2 linked regions of the Homo sapiens genome follow. The protein of the gene in region 1 interacts with the protein of each later gene in a pairwise test. Each region holds a gene or a part of one and is shown on either strand. Other genes may lie near its edges.

What was found. Proteins that work in one complex are often made in the same cells at the same time.
Region 2: the proteins of FOXP2 (region 1) and TBR1 interact in a two-hybrid assay, tested with the Homo sapiens proteins (2 studies listed by BioGRID and IntAct, with this or other methods).

Annotation. Positions count from the first base shown.
Region 1 is NC_000007.14:114,417,788-114,424,815, forward strand, and holds part of FOXP2 (forkhead box protein P2), read left to right. Parts: intron 1-7,028. UniProt on the Homo sapiens protein: Transcriptional repressor that may play a role in the specification and differentiation of lung epithelium. May also play a role in developing neural, gastrointestinal and cardiovascular tissues.
Region 2 is NC_000002.12:161,419,279-161,426,306, reverse strand, and holds the end of TBR1 (T-box brain protein 1), read right to left. Parts: intron 6,112-7,028; coding exon 6,050-6,111; intron 2,939-6,049; coding exon 2,080-2,938; 3' UTR 437-2,079; downstream 1-436. UniProt on the Homo sapiens protein: Transcriptional repressor involved in multiple aspects of cortical development, including neuronal migration, laminar and areal identity, and axonal projection.

The DNA.
Region 1 (7,028 bases):
TGAAACCTTTTTTGGTAATGATCATTCTTTAGAAACTGACAAATGCATGCATTTTTGGTATTTTCTTATAGCATTCTTACACTTGGAAATGATACTATGAAAGAAATACACGAACTGATATACAGTAAAGTGCTATGCCCCAAGATGTTTCTACTTTGTGAAAAGTACTTTATTGCATCTTAAAATGTTGTAGAAAGTAGACATTGCAATACATTTTTCAAAAACTTTCTGTGCATTCAGATTTTTGTGAGGGTATATTCCTTTAAAAGGAACAACAAGGCGTTATACTCATGATTGAGCTGATATTAAACTCCAGTGGTTATCTGTTTTTGTAGAGGTTTGGACTTGGGTAATTTTCTTCTGGAAAGATTATTTTTCTTCTGACCAATTTCTCCTGTTATGTCCTAATTGGTTACATAAATCTTGTCTGGTATGAATGAGAAATGTTTCTGTGTTGTCAAGTGTAATCTTCACCCTTATTTACCAATTCATTAAGATCTATTGATGCAGGACTGGTGAGAGGGAATGACAACATAAATCAGCCCTCCAACATAATGACCCTAATCAGCTAGAAATAACTGGAAACGTCATGATGAGCTATGTCTCTGTATTACTTCGGCAAGATTCTGTGGCTAGCGAGGTTTGTGTCTGCTTCGATCATTAACTTTACATCCACTCACCTTCTTCTAAAGAAGTTGTAGTGACTCTTGTTAGTATTACAAAGTTCTTTTTCTCAGACATTTGAATCTTTAGGAACCATAGAAGAAAAAAAGAAAGAGAAAAGGAAACTCACAGAACAGACGTCATGAAGGCTAATTAAAGCAGAAAAGAAACAAAGCTATTGTAGTGTTTTAAAGAACTTTCTGGTGATGATTGAAGCTGTGGGTTCAAAAAAAAAAGCTATACAGAAGGTCAATGGCTTTTTTTTATGAGAACCTGTCGATCGCAAAGGATTCAGGCGTATATCTTTCATGTTTAGTTAAACTGAGGCAAATGTTTTAAGTATACTTATAAGAATGATGTGGCTATTTCAATAAACCCAGGTGCCTCCAATCTGCCTTCTGATTCTTCTGTAAGAACTCATAATGACTTTCTTCTAAATTGGAATAACAGTGTGTTTCCTAGAGCTCTAACTGAAAGACTAGTAATTAAAATAAAACTGACAAATGATAATGTAAAATTTTTCTGTCTAAATGCATTAAATTGTAATGCTAAACACACACTCTTCTCAGTTGCTTTTATCAACTGGCTATATTTTTCCTGCATTTTGCCTGTATTATTAAATGCTAAGTTACAGAATACATCTATGCTAACTGACTGTGCATATAAAGGCAATTGTTATAGGTATATGTATGTCAAGTATATGCATGTATATACATATGTAGTATGTCAAATTTTGATAATCTATGTGTATTAAATATATACTTTATGACATACTGTTATTGGCATTTTCTATTGTTTGGCAGCAATAGTGAATTCATCCAAAATAGGTGGATTTCATTTTACATAGGACAAGAAATACTTGCAAACAGCAAGTTTAGGTTTGAAATTTGACGGAAAGGTTTATGCCATGTTTTGATATTCTGATGTGTGCTAACATTTAAAACAGTTTAAAATAGTTACATGTTGTGTGTTAATACAGGTGTTTTTGGAGTAGGTCTGCTTCATAGTCACTTGTTTTATACACACTTGATGCCAGAGTATAAATTACCCTACATCCCTCACAGTTATTTATCCTTATAGCATACTTGCTATTTAGATCAGACCATGGTATGAGTGTGACTCATGCTAACATTAGTGGAAGCTAAGTATAAAAATGTTTATTCTAATGCCTAAAATAAAGTTCAATCTCAAGAATAACGTATAAACTATTTTGAAACTATGCCGTCAAAAAACCTCTGTGACAGGTCGCTTACATACACATAGACACACACACACACACACACACACACACACACACCCCAGAAAGGACAAAAGCAGTTTCCTGACCAGATTCTAAAACTCCATTCAACACAATCATGTGGTTACATTAAAATTCTGGCCTTACCATTGCATCCACCTGCTAGGCTCATGTTGGACTTTTGCACTAAGTTGAGACCGGTGGAAGAAATTTCTCTAAGCGTACCGCCTATGCTGTGGGTCTTCCAATGGGAAGGCAAGAGGTGGGTCTGCTGAGGAGCAGTATTAAAGGGACATTTGGCACCCAAAAGATAGCCTGGAAGTAAAAAGTGCTGAAAGGGCAAGAGAATGAGGATCCGTGGAAGAGCTGTATTATGCTCAGGAAAAACAGCAAGGGATCCCAGGGAGTTGCTGTGGGCGGGAGACTGAAGATTGAAGTAAAGTAAGCCTGAGGGTTAAGGAAAGATATGTGGCAGGAAAGGTGAAAATGCCATCACAAGAGAAGTACATACTCAGAGCTCTCATTAGCCAGGGGATCAGTGAAGGCTATTGCAAGTAGTCCAGCCTTTGGGAATTTGACTGTAAGTGGACCCACTGCATGGAAGCTTGCAAGCTTGCACAACTCAATCACTAAGCTTTTTAAATAAAAAAGAGGGAGGTTTTGCCTGCTAGGCAGGTCTTTCTATGTTCTTGGAGAGCTAATTATTTCTTATTGCCTTACATTTTTACTGTTAAATTCTGTTTCCTAAACGAAAATATTCCTGGTTGCAGGATTTGACAATTTTTCTTCTTCAGGCAAAGACAAGAAAATCTGTGACAGAATATACTTGCTTACCTGGTGTCTTGTAAACTGTAGCCAGTATTTATTTTTGTATTGGCAACTAGGTAACATTCTTTAGTTTTTAAGTCCTCCTCTTACATATCTAAGACATACAGTTAGATAGGATAACACATTGCAAAAAATATTACATTTTGGCATTATAAATTAATGAAAACTCAATTTGTCAGAGGTTATAAAGTAGCAGGGTGAAATAAACTTTCCCTAAGCTTCCTATCCCCCTTGTTTTGAAAAAATAAATATTAATGCTATAAAGGATTGATTTTAAAACATTTAAATGATTTAATGAATTAAACTAACATTAAAATTTATATATTTAAAAGGAAGACTGACAATTTAGCATGTACCTTGAAAAGTAAAAATTGGTGTACATTTTTACATGTTTGAGAAATAAATATATACAGAAATTATATGAATGTGAAGACAAGATGTTAGAATATGAAGATTAATGTGAAAATATAATTTTGAAATATATTTTTGAGTAATTAGTTAACCAGAATTATCAATATAGTATTATAAAATCTCTTTCAATTATACTTCTGAAGGGGGCTTCTGAACTATAGATACAGAATCATAATGTTGCAGTAAAATACATCTACATGGCCACCATTCTTTCAAATTCTTCATTGCACTTTAAGTGAAATAGCATAGGGATTAAATACTTAATTTTAGTATTTTATAATATTTTCATAATTAAATATTTATGTTTTGTTTCCATTTTAAACTTATTTTATTTTTTATCCAGGAGCAAAATATAATATACTTAGTTGCTAAGTTAATTAATAGCTGATTGAAATGGAAGATAAGTTTTTCATTGGCTTTACTTATGTTTCCTAGATTTTGTTATTGTTGAAGATCTAACAGTATTATCTTTGCTAAAATGTAGTCATTATCATTTAAAAAATATTTTGTTAAAATGTCCTTCTACTTTGCATGTTTGAAATATTAACCTTTTTGAATGAAAGTCTGAATTTTTACTAAAGTGTTTTTTTTTCTAATTTGTGTATAGCATTTTAGGCATTTTGTTTAAATAAGTAAAAAGTAGTAACAAATACTTAATAAACAAGTTAATTTTAATTTACTTAAAATTATGTCACTTGGTATAGTAAAAATATCACTTGCTATAACAGATAACCTTCCCCAAATCATGTTTTAAAAGACATCCTGCTTCAGTTTTTAAAAATTGAAAATATTCATGTGCTGTTTCAATTTTTGTTCTTACACATTCAACTATATCCTTCATATTTGGCATTTTGATTTATTAGGCAATCTTAGCATTAAAGACTTTTAGCAAAGCAGTGCTGGATCTCAAATGCACTATGCATGGTGCCTATGATGAATTAATTCCACTAGAGCACAAGAGTTATCATTATTTAAACGCTAGTTTCTTTCAGAAGTTTTAAATCACAGTCAAGTTTTCAAAATTAGAACTTAACTAATATTTTGAGGTAAACGTATGAGGTTTCTTGTTACATATGTTAAGTTTTCTTAATATTTAACTCTTTCTTGTGTGAATCTGCATAGAAATATTTAATATTTGATATTGATAATTGATCAAAGATTAAGGAGGTATTTAAGAATATATGTTTTAAATTTGATGCCTTACTTTTCTTAAAATGTCATATTCAAAACTATTTGGATTTAATGCATATGTTTGATTAAATAAATTGGACACTGGAATGAATCAGATATTAGACATAAAGTGTCTTTCAAGGTCACTGTAATCATTTTGTTTAAGAAAAGTTGACGAAATGAATTGTTAGAAATGTTTTATATGTACTGTTATTTGTTCTTAGTTTTCTGGGAAGTCATTTTTTTTTCATCCATTTGTTTTGATTAAATAGTAAGACTCCTCCACCAAAATGAGAGTTAATATTAAGGCACTAAGATTATAAGACAGACTGTTTATGTAGAATGCAGAGTGTGGTTCAAAGTAGAGGCTATTTTTATCTTCTTTATAATCCCTGACATACATAGACAGATTGATTGATCTATCTTTATAAACATATATAGATACACATATTCATGTGCACACATATACACATGGGAATGTGGAGTGGAAAAGAGATAGGGAGCATAAGAAACAGGGAAGGAGAAGAGATGAGAAAGAAGACCATAGAGAAAGTTGAGTAAGCAACAAGGACCAGTAGTGTCCCTGGTGGTGGCTGAGATAACACAATTAACTATGCTTGTCCAGGTCAAGTTTCAAACTTTTAAACATTGCTGCGAATACGGAATAGGATACATGCAGGTTTCTGTTATCACTCTGGCATGTAACTATCTCACATGATACAGTTTTATACCAATAGAACATATAACTCTACGAGGAAGAAATAAAACCAACAAGTCTAGCATTCAGTACTACCCTATCATAAAGTAAGGAGGCCTAATTGAGCTATGTCTTTATATCCTGCTATTTGTACAAATAAAAGACTACATCTTGATGCAAAATAAACACAAAAGCACTGTTGTGACTATAACAGGGAGTCATATACTAATTTATATAATAAGTGGTTGTGCACGCTTTATTCAAGATTATGGCTGCAAGAAATGGCATGAATTGCTGGGTGTGTTTAATGCTGGATTATAGCAATTTGAAACATGTCAAACACATGGCTAATGCCTCATGCTTCACTCATTCTTGCGTAAACCTGCATAGCCACCATCCATTATACCCTTGGTAACAACACAATTCTGCAAGTAAATATTGTTACACTAAGTAACCTTTCAATTCAAGTTGTTTAGGAAGAGAAAATGCAATCTTGTGCAGTCAGTTCCAGTGTCAGTTTAATGTTTCAAAAGGGAAGTGGTGTAGAGAATAAGTATCTGTACAGTGACTTGCTTAAAAAAGAAGAAAGAAAAAGGAAAGGAAGGAAAACTTAATGCAGGGGAGAAAAGTCTAACTGTATCGTTTGAGTGTAAGATCTGAAGAGTTATTTTCTGATGTGGCTGAAAAGTTGTGTACGATGAAAGACTTAAGGGTTTAACTTACAGTTCAGACAAACATTAAAACAGGGACTCCCAGATTCATCTTTCCCTTTAATGATCTGGAATTTATTTTCACTGATTTTTGTAAAATGTTTGTGGTGGGATTGATAAGAATGAATAATTTAGCTTGGTATGTTTCGGATCATAAGCACATCCACTCTGAAAGAATATGCTGAATTTATTATTATTTAAAATATACTTAAAAGGTAAACAGCACTTCACATTGTGCTGGAAATATTTCCTATATTGGGAAATAAGTGGAAGTGTTACCAAGAGAAACTTAGTAAATGCTAGAAATAATCTGCATTGTCCTTGAAAAATTCCTCCTTTATAGTGAACATACTCCAAGCTTTTTTAAGTGAAATGTACAGTATAATCATCTAATTACACAATCACCCTTCTTTTTTCATATAAGTGTTGTATCAGATACTCCTCTTTTGTAGAGCAAAAAGTACTATCACTGTTATAGTTTTCTTAAGCATTATTTTACTAACTCTTAGATGATTGAACTTAAAATGTAAATAACAGTTTATACTGTAGGGTTTTATAAAGTTAAAAACTCCACAAGGGCTAAGAATAAAATCCTTTAGTTAAAAGGAATTATAAGTTATTTAGGTCTTTCTTCGTAATTGTAATAAAGATTTAGACACATGCCTCTTTGCTTGTTGATTATTCTTAATTATTTGATGGCCTTGATTATGACACAGTAATACATGTAGAATTCTTTAATTCATCCAATTGGTCCTGAGATTTACTACACAAAGGTTAGTAGTAAATGCTGCACCTGTCTGCTACACTGGAAAATATAGTGTTTTATTTTTATTCCTTGTGTTGCTAACTCCATCCAGAAACAATAAATATTTCAAATAACTTAGGTGATGAAATAAAAACATACACATATATACACATATTCCAGACATGTTCTCAAAAGTAAAATTTAAATGCAATATGTAAAAGTTATGCCTATCTGTTTCTACAGTTGGAGAGGATTGAAATTATAATTTTCATATAACTAGTAAAGGCAATCAGACCTTTTCTCTGAATATTTTAAACATTGTGCATGTAAAATTTATGCCTAATTTGAATACTTATTAGCTGCCTAATCTCAGAAAAGAGTATTAGCTTTGTTTTTTTCTTATAAAATCCATCACTATGTATCAGTTTTAATTTATATGATTTTTTCTTTGTTAATGTTCAATAAGATGTTTAGCAAAACCTATTTGTTTATAAACACATTTCGCTCAAAAATTGTTTACTATAGTTACAGCAATTATTTCCTTTCTGCTCATGTTTTCTGTTGTTT
Region 2 (7,028 bases), on another chromosome or scaffold:
GGTCAACATCCTATTTTGACATGCATTTAAATTACACCCTACTTTTGGCCAACGCCTCCCGCCTTACTCTGTGAAATTTAAAGAAATTCTTAACTCCTTATTTAAAGAACCTCCTTTTCCTGTTCGCATTATTTCCAACTTCAGAGAGAATCAGATAAATATGATGAGAAAAGTGCATATGTTTTCCTGAAAAAAGAAAATGAGCGCAGAAAAGTGAGACTTGGCTCATAGGTAGCTAAATAATTATAAATAAGAAGAAAAAAGTAGCTCCTGGAAGTACTATAAAACAAATTTAAGGGGGGAATGGGAGGTGGCTTCCATTAAACAGGCTGCCCATATTGGAGTGGGGACGGGCTAGTCTTCCTTAACCCTTAAATATCATCACCTATAATAATTAAATTATTTTCAAACTGTAAACTGCTTTCAAACACCATAGTTAGCGTTTTTACCAGGTTTATTTTACTTGTTATACACAGACGATACAAACGAGCAAAAAACAAAACGTTTCTCAATGGAGTGTGTTCTTGTATAAATTATTCAGTTCACAGACAAAACGAAACAAATATAAAAATCACAACATTAGATTTACAGAAGAGCCAAAATATACACACGTTTAGACCCTGAATTCCTATTAGGAAAAATCCCCCCATGGACTGGAATCTAGATTGAATATTGTGTATGATGCATATTTCACATTAATTTTTAAATACAAAAAAGTATAGGTTTGCTACACAACATTAGAAATCCTACTAATCTATTTCCAGGGGGATTAATGCTCCTTATCAAATATAACAAGACTTAGGGGAAAATCAGTCTTACTTGCATTAATGCTAGTGTTCTCCCAAGGAAGTCAAATTTCAGCTGTTTCTAGGTGGTGGGGAAGTCATTTTCAAAACTAAAATGCAGTAAAATATACAACTCACACAATTCATCTTCACTAGACTACACTATAGTTACCAACAATTCAGTCATCTATATCATTAATAGAGTATTCATTACAAAGATTTACAGCATATAAAGGTGAAGGGGTACTGAAAGATATTCAGAAACAGTTTGTCAGCATATTTGGCACCTGCACAGACCAGTAATGGATTTGGCACTTTGGGGAAAAACAAATAAGGCAAAATAATATTGCTGATGTCGAGCTATTCTATTTAGAAGGTGGGGGGAACATACAACTCCAGTTGACTTTGCTTTGCAGGCATCATGCCACTTAATCGACTTGCCTATGAACAGACACCTATCCTTTAAAGGTGTTTGGGTGGATTCTCCTTAGCTATTTGTGTGCATTAGGGCACATAGTAATTATTTCATGCAACGGATTGAGGAGAAGTGGGAAACCCATCACTACTGAGTATTTCATGTTTCTAGAGCCTCTTAGAATATTATCTCACAAGAAAATTAAAAGAGAGAGAAGAGAAAGTATGAGAGGAGAGAAAGAAAAGCAAAGAAAGGAAAGGAAAAAAAGGTTAAGCATGAACTGGTTTTGTGCCTTGACGAGAATAAAAACTAGCCATTCGTTACAATAAATTAACACTATGTACAATCATTTCACAGGCTTTGTTCCACTAAAATTATTAACATCCCTACCATCCATCCATCCATCCATCCACTCGGGGATAAGAAAGGACGCGCTGGGTGGGTCCAGGTTCTAGAGTCAACATCCTATGGTTAATGTGGAGGCCGAGACTTGGCGGGTCGGAATCGCTGCTGCCTGACAGGACTGCCCAGGTCTCCTAAAGGTGAAGAGTTTCATTACAAGAAAGAGAAGTAGGAGGTAAGAGAAAGACGAGGGGGAGGGGAATTGTAGGAGGATAACTCCACAGAAGAAGAGTAAGTAGGAAAACCAAAAGGTTTACAGCAAAGTTGAAGGTCGGTGAGCTAATTGCAGAGACTGCTGTGCAAAAAAGGTTAAAATCACGCTCGGAGACCTGCACTTATTCGCTGCAGACGGCCATCGAGGGTCAAATAAAATGAGTGGGTGCGCAAGGAGGAGTGTGGGGAGGCGGAGCTGGGGAAGAGCTGTGAGGGGCTGGCTGGGGGTCCGGGCCGCGGCGGGGCCGGGCGGGCAGGGGCGGCCTAGCTGTGCGAGTAGAAGCCATAGTAGCCGCTAATGTCCTTGGCGCAGTTCTTCTCGCAGTCCCGCTGGGCCAGCACCTCGCTCTTGAGCGGGGACGAACTCTCGGACACGGGCGTGTCGGCCGGCGAGATCCGCCTCCGCTTGGCCTGCTCGTAAATCCCCGAGTCGCTGGAGTCGATGGACTTGATCGAGGAGGGCGTCTCGATCCAGCTGGAATCGGACAGGTCCTTGGGCTTGGCGTCCTCGGCGGCGCCGGGCGGCAGCGGCGAGCGCTCGGCGGCCAGGCCCTCGGCCTCCTCGCCCAGGTAGGGATTGGCGCCGGCCATGCGCGCGGCGGCCGCGGCGCTGTTGGGCCAGCAGGGCAGCACCGAGCCCGACTTGGTGCCGCAGTACTGCGGGGGACTGCGGGCGCCCCAGCCCGACGGGTCGGCGTAGTAGCCGAGCGGGCGGCCAGTGCAGCCTGCAGCCTGCAGCGGCAGCGCCTTCACGCCCGCCGCCGCGTAAGAGAGCAGCGTGGCCGCGTTGCCCGCGAAGTCCGTGGCCGTGTCATAGGCCGAGGCCGCGAAGTCCAGCCGGTTGTTGGCCGGCGTCACAAACCAGCGTTGCGGCGAGGGCGCGCCCGGGTCCTCGGCCTGCTGCGGCGACAGCAGCCCGTTGGTGTGCGGCACGCTGCGGTCCGTACCCGGCCCGGGGCCCGCGCCCGCGCCCGGGTGGAAGCGGGCCTTGGCGTAGTTGCTCACGAACTGGTCCTGCAGGAAAGAGCCGGCCATGGCGTAGCGGGCCCCGGGCACGATCTGCGAGCGCGGCGAGTCGTTGGGCGAGGGGGTCAGGCGGTCCATGTCACAGCCGGTGTAGATCCTGCGGGGTAGGGAGAGAGAGAGAGAGAGCCGAGGGGTGGCGCGGAGGTCCCTTGGGGTGGGGGTGGGGGCAGAAGGGAAGGCCACCTCCACTTTTCGCCCACCCCCACACCCTCCATCTACAAACTTGCAGTCCAGGATTTCCTGGAGAATACAAGAGGCCACAGACCTCTATCATTCCCAAAATAAATCACGGAATTATAGAGGAGCCAATCTGTCTATGCAGGGACCTGAGCAAGATACAGACCATCAAGGGAACGACTTCCCTCTTCTCTTGCTCTCTCTCGTCAAGTGTACTGGGGTACTGAGAGAGGGGCACAAGCAAGGACTTTCATCCCACTTCTCCAACATATGTGTGCACATTAAGGCAGATTTACCTAGGGAGTAAGATGCTCTTTGCCCAGTGGGCCTTTCCTCTGCGGTCAGTTTATGAGTGAAATTTCTAAGCAAGGTACTCACTCCTCCACCCTTTTAAGACCTCCTGTGTCCATTTGATTGTTCAGGTGATATCTCTCCTTTTTCTAGATTGTTTCAGAAACCCCTAGGAAAAAGCCGCGCACGCAGTAATCATGAAAGACTGGCCTTCACCCGTGTTCTGGAACCCGAGGTTTGCTGCTGGAAGCCTCCAAAGTACTTAGTGTCTATTGTTTCCCCTGTGTGAAACTTTCACTCCCACCTCTACTAATACAAACAAGAATTACTACTCTGAAACAGTAGTCATCAATCAGAAATATTCTCTTAAGAGAAAAGGTGTTCTTTACTCTGACCTTCTTTTCCTAGCTTTTGGTCCGTTACCCGCAGAAACTTCGGGGCAAACCTACAGTGTACTTATCAGCCTACTCCATGCAATGGACCACTAATAATAGCTAACCTTTACGGAGCTCGACTATATGCCAGGCACTGTGAGCTAGGTAACTTTTATTATCCCACTTTACCGATGAGGAAATTGAGGCAAAAGGAAGTTAAATAACTTGCCCAACCAGCGACAGTGATTGTGTTGTTGGGAATTACCTTAGATAAAATAATCAAAGATTAACTTTAGGCCCTGGGCCTAGAAAATCCCATTAGAATTGAGAGGAAACCAAGGGTTGGATGAAGATTGGTAGAAGTGTTTTCTCATACACATGCACACATGCCTCCCTTTTTATTTAGCTCACACATAAATGTTTTAATCTTTAGTCAACAGACTGTTTTGAAGGAGAGCCTCAGTCTTGTCAGACCTTAATCCTTTGGGGAGGAGATTCCCTGGTGAGTGGCCAAGCAAGCTCCTAGTACCCCATGAACCCTTATACTTCTCCCTCTTTCTCCAAAATTGAGCCATGTCCAAGTAACCAACGTAAAAGGGGAAAGGAAGAGTGTCATGAACCACTCAACTCTTCTCTGTCCCCTAAAAATCTCAGGTTTGTGTGTGTGTGTGTGTGTGTGTGTGTGTATAGATAAAGAAGCTTTTATGAAAGATTTAAAGTGATTTAAGATCAAAGAGGAGTGGCTTTTCCAACAGAAGGCAGCCAGAGGAGGAGGGGCATGTGAGAGTTTTGCTGTGGCTGCTCAGGTCCGTTCTGTTTAGTGCACAAAATTTCCCTTCTGAAATTGAATTCCAGTTTCAAATAAGAGAAGTAGAGGGAGGCAGGAAGGGAACATAACTAGCAAGGTGCAAATATCTTCTCTGTTTATCACCACAATATTTTAAAAAGAAAAAAGCAGTCCGCAAAAGATACAGTTTAGATGCCTATCCAGGTCCCACCCACTTGGGATTACTGAATTGATTTGTGCAAAATAAAATGCTTTTGAACAGATGTTCACAACAGAATTAAAATCTCAAAATCTACAGGACTCTCCTCTAACATCTCTAGTCTCTTGAGCCATATACTTTCCACTGTGCTGGGCACACCTTTTTAGATTGTGAGGAATAGAGTAGCCAAGTTTTTATTCTGGGGAATCATATTGATGAGACTTGGTTCCTTTGGAGTACTTTTGAAGAATATATATGGTGGTTATAGGCAGTAATATCAATGACTCTCTTTTAAATTATTAGAAAATATCAGGAGGGATGGTTGGTATCTGCTTGGAGATGGAATAGAGGCAGTCACTTGTCTCTTTCTCCACACATTTAATCTATGCTAGTCAAAGGCAGCTTCAACTTTTTAGCTCTGTCTCAGGCGCTCAATGTAAGCCACGAAATTAAGATGTATGTACCCTTTCCTTTTATGGTCAGAAAACGTGGGGGAACCCCACAATCCAGATTTAGATTTATGACACTATCTGAACTCTTAGGCACTATGGACCCTGAGTGAGAATTGCAGAACAAGCCCAGAAAGCATTCAGTTTACACCTACTGTTGGCCCCAGAGAACAGCCTTTTGATAGAAAGGAGGGAGGTAAGGGAGGCCTAAAGAAAAGGGCACCAGCATGTTTAATTAAAACACACCTAGATACAAAACAAAGAGGAAATATTTTTCTTTTGAAGCTTATAAATAATACACAGCAACACCGTCTGAATCTTTCCGAAAGCCTAAAATGACCATAACAGCGGTTCTGCTCATGAACTCGCCTGTGGTGGGTGCACATTTGTATTCAGTCCGTAGCCAACTTGCACAGGAAATGCTATTATACAAAACTTGGAAATGGGTAAATAAAGGTCGCATATGCTAAGGAGACTGTTAACAACTGCCAGAGGAGCCACATGCACTTTTAGGCAGAATTGCCCGTTTCAGACAGACATAGACAATCTGAGCTGAGCATCTGCAGCGCCACATACAGTACTCGCACCCGAGAACCAGGGCAGCCTCCCCAGCCAGCCAGCCAGCCCCAGAGGCCCACCAACAACTTTGTAATCCACAGGAAAGTTAAAATTAGGTGGAGGAAACCTCTGACCAAAAACCACGCAAGTACCAAGCCACAAGGTCACCAGAGAGAAGGGGAGCCAACCAAAAAAAAAAAAAAAAAAAAAAAGAAGAGGAAGAAGAAAGAAGAAAGACGAAGAAGAAGAAGTCCTCTAAAACAACCTTGTCTTCACACATTCCAGCTTTCAAAATCCTTGTACATAATAATACACCTTTGACCTAAAGCCCAATTCCACAGCTATTTGAAAAGGAAGATACAAAGTTACTTACGTGTCATAATTATCCCGAAATCCTTTTGCAAAAGGGTTGTGATCTATTTTCAGTTGTGTAATCTGGCAAAGAAAAAAAATGAATGTTATCTCACCTTTTATACGTGAAGACTGGGTGTTTGAGAATATATCATCTGCCACTTTTACAGGGGCTTAAGGCCTACAATTTATTAAATAGCAAGGTTTTCCTAACTGAAAAATTTGAGGGATTGAGTGGAAAGGAAAAAAAGAGAAAGTATCATGAAAGTTATGAGGAACATGTTTAAATTAATGATACCTATAGCCAAAGAACTGCTTTCAATTAGCTCTCCTGTGTTTTCTAAATTTGTTCAAACTCACATTTTAAAAATGCTTGTTACACACAATGCACTTGTTCAGACAAAAATCTTTAAGGAGAACTTGAATTCATCACTAAATGTTGACTATTTTAAGTATTTTATATTTTAAAACGTTTGTCGCTTCTGACTCACAACCTGAGAAACCACAAGTTGCATCTTAAAATCAGGTTGGATTTAAAAGCATGTTTTAATTTCTGATATTATCATTTAAGTAAAAAAAAGAAACAAACACAAAAACCCCTATCACTCCTAGTAGTCAAATCAGCCACTAAAATCTGTTTTTGCAAACTTGAAAAATCAGAAGTGGTTCAAGTGCTAGAAAGCTCAATCCATAGCCCTCAGTAATTTGATTTATTGTAGTTTTCACATATATGAATGTGTATGTTCTTTTGATCTCCCAGAACAGTGATGTTTGTTCATTTCAGCCATCAGTTCTGAGATGAAAAAAAGAGAGAGAGAGAGAAATTTTTTTTTAGATGCCAAAGCTTGCCAAGAATAAAATGCACGGGGAAATCTGCTTGTTTTCTAAAGGAAAGAGAGAATTTTTTTTTAAAGTAGATTTTAATCTGTTCTAGTTCAAAGCCCAAATTAAAACTCCCAAAAGAAGAGTCTTTAGAAATCCTGGCCACCTCAAAGGTGGCC